2 separate regions of the Homo sapiens genome follow, and region 2 is reported to be linked to region 1. Evidence: microRNA targets listed by miRTarBase, many of them from high-throughput screens and not tested one by one. Region 1 holds a microRNA gene; the other region holds the end of a gene's coding sequence.
What was found. Region 1 holds the annotated microRNA hsa-miR-4328 (CCAGUUUUCCCAGGAUU, at 1,161-1,177, opposite strand). A microRNA usually pairs through its seed, bases 2 to 8, with sites in the 3' UTR of a target mRNA and lowers its output. Matches are read on the target gene's strand: a 7mer-m8 pairs with bases 2 to 8, a 7mer-A1 pairs with bases 2 to 7 and ends in A, and an 8mer does both.

Region 2: the mRNA of FAM174B is a reported target of hsa-miR-4328. Seed matches in the 3' UTR shown: 7mer-m8 at 1,386-1,392.

The regions. Positions count from the first base shown.
Region 1 is chrX:78,900,044-78,903,450 of GRCh38, forward strand. It overlaps MIR4328 (microRNA 4328), which reads right to left and starts at 1,206; the gene lies at 1,151-1,206.
Region 2 is chr15:92,616,754-92,620,160 of GRCh38, reverse strand. FAM174B (family with sequence similarity 174 member B) reads left to right here. Exons shown (of 3, transcript NM_207446.3): 3 at 702-2,713. The coding sequence ends at 705. Among named protein-coding and RNA genes, the nearest start is that of FAM174B, 37 kb to the left of the region's middle.

The sequences.
Region 1 (3,407 bases):
GTGGGCATTGAATATATACATTTTTTATTATTATTATACTTTAAGTTTTAGGGTACATGTGCACAATGTGCAGGTTAGTTACATATGTATACATGTGCCATGCTGGTGCGCTGCACCCATTAACTCGTCATTTAGCATTAGGTATATCGCCTAATGCTATCCCTCCCCCCTCCCCCCACCCCACAACAGTCCCCAGAGTGTGATGTTCCCCTTTCTGTGTCCATGTGTTCTCATTGTTCAATTCCCACCTATGAGTGAGAATATGCGGTGTTTGGTTTTTTGTTCTTGTGATAGTTTACTGAGAATGATGATTTCCAATTTCATCCATGTCCCTACAAAGGACATGAACTCATCATGTTTTATGGCTGCACAGTATTCCATGGTGTATATGTGCCACATTTTCTTAATCCAGTCTATCATTGTTGGACGTTTGGGTTGAATCAATAGACAGTGTCAAAAGTGTTCAAAATTCAAAAACAAACAAATGAAAAAAACTGGGAGAGTGAGAGTAGATAAAATTTATTAGAGCCTTTGGAAAGATAAGTTGGAAAGAAGGCTGGAATGGTGTGGTAAGGGTAGAGTAGGGAAGATGGAAAAAGAAGCAGTTTGGAGGAAGTTAGGAAGGAAAGGAATGATGAGAGAGTAAAAATGATGCAAATTATGTGTTTTATATATTTGACTGGGAATAAAAGGTGATAAACTGATCAAGAATTTAGAATGTCAGGCAGAGATTTTTGTTACCCATTTGTTTGTTATAGACAAAGGGGTCCTGAGACTGAGGACATAAACCAAAAAAAAGGCCATGGAACAAAAGATGAAAGATACGAGAAAAGAAGGGGCAATGGCTTATAAGAATTTGTTACCTAAACAATTTATAGACATAGCAGTGCCTTAATCTAAAGCAATAAAACCCAATGGTGGAATTTCAGAAAGTATGATAACCAGTTTGAAAAAGTGGGATACATTTATACAGCCTCAGATTAGAAATCTACTTCTCCTCCTTAAACCAATTATATCAGAGGCAATTGTCCTGGTTTGATTTTCTTTTGAAAAGACTGCATTGACTTGAAATGTGTATGTGAGGGATGAACAGGGAGCAGGGAAATTTGCCTTTGGAAATTAAGTTCTTACTAAAATAGTTTTTATCTCTCGGAACAGTTAATCCTGGGAAAACTGGTTCTCAATGGTTCTCAGGACTCAACTGTTTTGGGGTTAATTCAGGAAATTCTAAATACCAGAGAGGCCAAATTATTGCTTCAACTTTTGGGAAGAGGTGCCATTCTTGAACTTGCTAGATGGTGAGCTAAAATGAGGAGGATGATCTGAAGTCTTTTTACATAGACTTCCAATGTCATGCTCTTATGGGCTTGCTCTGTCCAGTAAATGGCACAGATCTCCATCCTCAGCGACCTCAGAAGTGCCAATGAAGACTTATCAAAAGTATCACTTCCTGGGCCTGTGCATGTCTCAGATGCAGGTTCACTGTTGATCTTACCCATAGATATTAGTCAATGTCTGCATTAATGACCCTTCTGGGTCAACCTCAAGAGAGCCACAGAACTTGTTTTTCTTCTCTTCAATCCTGACCTGACCCCTCTATTAGCCTTACTTTAAGCCAGGAGAGCTCCTACTACAGAAAAAGGGGATGAGTCACTGAGGGCCAGGAACAAGACTAGATCTCTTTAGTGTCAAAGGAAGACATAACATGCCCTGTGAAGTCTATTGTTTTCTAAAAATCTTGTATCATCAGATAATATCTTGAAAGCTAACTTTCCTTTCATAGCAGAGAGAAACATTGAGAGTACCCAGGTATAAAATGCTTGAGGGGATGGAGACTCAATTTTTCATGACTTGAGTATTATGCATTACATGCCTGTATCAAAATATGTCTTGTATACCATAACTATATACAACTACTAAGTACCCACAAAAAATAAAAATAAAAATAAAATTGTAGCATGAATTGCTAAAAAAAAGAGGTTCTATAAGATCCTATACCAATTATATGCCGAAACTAACAGGGATATTGGGGTCCTCCATTTTATGTGGAGGTAAACTGATAGTAGATGGCTACTGTGATTTGCTTAAGGTCACAAAAGATCATAATCAGTGCAAATCATTTGACTAATACACTATCCAAGTAATACATTTCATTTTGCCTCTGGGGTTGCAGACAAGTTCCCTGCTGCAATGAAATCTGTGTGGGTATACATAAACTAATAAATACATTAATATATGATGTAATATAAAGTCACATAATAGTAAGTTTCATGAAGAAAGTAAAACAGGATAAGGAGATAGTTTGTGCAGAGTATGTATTTGCTTTCATTTTGGTTGTTCAGAAAAGTACTCTGAAGAGGTGACATTTTGAGTAGTGGACTGGATAATTTATCAGAGCCGTAGTCTTAAGGGAAAATGTTGCAGTCATAGACAAAGCAAGGGTAAAGGCCCCGGGATGGAAAGAGGATTAGTATTTGGTTTTTATTAACAATACTTAGTGACTTCTATAGGGTAGAGCACTCCAAATGTTTCAATTTAACTCAATGAAATTCAATTAACCAGTTAAGTAGAATTTAGTGCCGAATAAGTATTAAGAAATTATTTATTATTCAAAGGCCTAAAAACAGAACTACCATTCAACCCAACAATCCCATTACAGGGTATTTACCCAAAGGAATATAAATCATTCTATTATAAAGACATATACATGCATATGTTCATTATAGCACTATTCACAATAGCAAAGACATGGAATCAAGTAAATGCTCACCAATGATAGACTTGATAAAGAAAATATGGTACATATGCACCATGGAATACTATGCAGCCATAAAAAAGAATGAGATCATGTCTTTTGGAGGAACATGGATAGAGCTGCAGGCTGTTATCCTTAGCAAACTAATACAGGAACAGAAAGCCAAATACTACGTTCTCACTTATAAGTGGCAGCTAAAAGATGAGAACACATGGACACATAGAGGGAAACAACACACTCTGGGGCCTATCAGAGGGTGGAGGATGGGAGGAGGGAGAGGATCAGAAAAATTAGCTAATGGGTACTAGGCTTAATACCTGGGTGATGAAATAATCTGTACAACAAACCCCATAACACAAGTTTACATATATAACAAACCTGCAAACATACCCTTGAAATTAAAATAAAAGTTAAATTTTTAAGAAAGTAATTACTTGTATAAAACACTTGTGCTATGAATGTTTGACATAATCCTTGCATTTGAGTAATTCCCAATTTGGTGGAGATTTATACACAAATGACTATGATAGAAGGCAGAAAAGTAATTTTGCCATAAAACAAGTCCAGATAAAAGATTCTTAGAATTTTAAGACAGAAGATATTATTTTCTGTTGGGGAATCTGTCTAACCTTCATAAATAAAAAGGAACCCA
Region 2 (3,407 bases), not on the chromosome of region 1:
AGCTTAGATGTGGCTTTTGTCTCAAGCTCCCAGTCTAAGCAAGAGACCAACACTACTCAGATACATAAACCAGGAGTCAGCAAACTATGGCCCATGGGCCAAATCCAGCCCACTGTCTGTTTTTGTACAGCTCAGGAGCCAAGAATGATTTTCACATTTTAATGGTTGAAAAAGAACCAAAGGAAGAATACTATTTTATGACATGAGAAAGTAACATGCAATTCAAATTTCAGTGTCTATAAATAACATTGTACTGGAACACAGCCATGGCCAAGCATTTCTTGCTGTGGCTGCTGTTCCACCCCAACAGCAGGGTTGAGGAGTTATCACCGTGATTGTGGGATCTGCAGAGTTTACAATATTTCCTCTCTGGACTGTCACAGAAGAAGTTTTCCAACCCCTAGTGTAAACACCCTGGAAGTGCTGGCAAGGAGAGGGATATAAGGAGAAAGAGGTTGTGTTCTAGGGAGTCTGTGTGGGGAGCTGGGGGAGGGATCCTTAGTTGGGAACTGTGGGGAGGGAGGGGGTTTGCTGGAAGAGTGGATTGCGCCTTCCAGACAGCACGCTCAAAGGTCCTGTGGCTGGGGACTGTGGCCTTTTCACTGGCTGAGAGGGTGAGGGATAGAGATGTTCAGGAGGGGTCAGAATGGGTGCGAGGCTCTGCCAGAAGGGGCTTACTCTTGTCCTTCCCTTTCTTTTAGGTAAAACCTGTTTCCCAGCCTGGTGGCATCCTGTGGAAAGTTGGTCAGCTGCAACCTGGGGTGTGAAGGACTGGACCTGGAAGCCCTCTTGCGTCGGAGGTGTTGAAACCAAAACGAACGTTATGTATAAAACCCCAGCTCCATCGTGCGTGTCAGGCATCTGCTCAGACTGTCACTGGCAAGCTCGTTTCCACGTCACCACAATGGAGTTGCTTCTGCCACCCTTTGGGCATCCCTTTAAAGTGCCCCCTACTTCTACTCCCCATGTAAGAGGCTTTGTGCCTTGCTAAGGAGCAAAGGGTAGAAACATGTTGATTTTAAAGAAGTTTTTTTAAGACAATTGTTGACAATAGTAAAAGAGATCAGGAGGATCAAGAATCTAAAACAAGCCTGAAGGATGTCCAACTGTGTATTTAGAATTTCCGACATTCTTCTCTACTGGATCTACACATTGGACCCCATCTGATCCTTTGCTGCTTTTTTGGCTTGGTCAGGTCCTGGCCTCATTTTGGCGTTACCTGTGTCAGAGTTCAAGGTGGATGTGCTTAGAGCTGGTCAGCCCCTTCCAGACCTGGACACGTCTGTGGCTCCTTTTCTTTCTTCCTTTTTTTTTTTTTTTAAAAAAAAAAAAGGTTCAGCAGAAATCAGCGTGGCTAGTTCACAAAGAATTTCCAGTATCAGGGAAAAACTGTGCGTGTGTGTGTGTGTGTGTGTGCACGTGTGTGCGTGTGCACGTGTGTGATACCTATAAAACAGTTTCTCCTTCTCTGAAGGGAAAGGAAAGTGCTAGGCAGCCTGTGATTAGCAACATTCTTTGTGCTTTTTTGTTGTTCCTCTGCTCTGTCACAGTTCTACGTTGTTTGCCTTAGAAATGTAATTTTTAAAAACCATTTTAAAAATGAACGGTGATTTGGCTGGCTGGAAAAAATCACACTGTCAGGGGACTATATTTGAAGTCAGTCTAGACGGGGCTGGACTAGGAACCCACCTGGACCCAGGAGACCCCACAGGACCCAGGAGGTCCCTGCCGGAAGGCAGAGGTTCAGGTGAGAGTGGCTCACCTCTGAGCTGGTGAAGTGAGGACTTGCCTGTGACATGACCCAGGGATCTGCTGCTGGCTTCTGGAGACAGGGCCTTGGGCTGACTTCTCAGGTTGATTGAGGCCTCCTGACTAGCGGTGTTCCCAGGCTAGAGGTGATTGGCTGCAACAAAGATGCTTCTATTAGTCTATTAGCAGTGCCTTCGGGACCCTGGGATTTTGCTCTCTCTAGAAAGGTGTTTTTTATTTTTTTATTTTTTATCTCCCCCTTTTTTCCTGGCTTTGCTCCAGGGTTTGTGTATTTGCCTGTTTATTGTCCTGCTCTTTTTTTTTTTGGATGAAAACTCCAGCCTTTCCTGACTCACCTCCATCTTCGGTTCTTCAGTTTTCTGAGAAGAGTTGGGATATGTGGGAAGGGGCATGGGAGCTCGGCAGCCTCCGCCTGCCAGGAAGGCAGTTTCGCCTCTGCAGGAAAGAGCAGAGCCCGTGGGAAGCCCTGGGTGAGGGTGGCGCAGCCGGCCCAGCACGCATGGTATTGCCAGCCACGGGGGGCCTGCGTGTAGTCTCTGCTCCCTGCATTTCACCTTCTTTGTTGACTTTCCTTCTCTGTTTTCCCCCATCTGTTTGCCAGAGGGGTGGGACTGGCAACAGAACAGCCGTGGCTGCTTTATCTCTCCTCTCCACGGTGTACTCAGGCCTGAGTGGTGACTCACGGGAGCCTGGCCACCTCGCAGCTGTTCGCCCCCTCAACCTTTGAACTGGAACTGCTGGCTCACACAGGGTTTTCGACAACTGCAGCTGAATCTCATGGAAAAGCTGGATTCCTCTGCCTTACGCAGAAACACCCGGGCTCCATCTGCCAGGTGCTTGCCACTGGTCCTGGCAGAAATGGCGGCTGCTGAAAGTGACCTTCCAAATCCTTGGTGGCACTTCAGCGCCACAGGCTCTCCAATAAAAACCCTTTACACACAAACCATGAGTACCTTGGGCTTGGATGTTTTCTGTGGTGCCGGCCAGCGGGGCACCTTTTGTGAAGACAGAGGTGGGTGGGCCCAAGGCTGAGGAGGAGGGCGGGGATGGGAGCTGGGCTGGAGGTGTTTGGATCCTGGTGATTAGAGAAAAGCTTGGAAATGAAAAAGGCTTGGTGGTGGAGGGGCATGCATGCTGTTTTTACGTCTACATATACAATTGGAGGCTCACTCGCTCATTTCCTGGAAGCTTGCTCCTTGGCTAGGAAATACTGAGGCCTAACTGTTTCCAGAGAATCTTGGGGCATCTCCAGAGAAGATAGAATCAATCACATAAAAAACTGCTGGCTTGTAACTGCCTCATACCTGGCTTGCTTTACTCTATGAGTAAGCATGGGATGCATCTGGGCCGGGTTCACAGCGAGCTGAGAAAAAGCCGGGGGAAAAGCCCATTTGCTGCCGTCCAGCTGGTTCCCTTGGAGGTCACCAAGGAGCTGGGGGTGTGGTCTGTGTCCCTCCTCCCTGAGGAGCTACTCCTGTGCTCCGTCTTCTCTACCACTGTAGCAGTGACTAAGGTTCTCCAGGGTAGCTCTTTCTCCAAACAGCTGCGCTGGAAGCCAGCCCTAGAGAGTGGGTTTCCCCATCATCTCAGGCTTCTCAGAGAGTGTCCTCCGCTGAGCACCCATCCTGTCAGGTTGG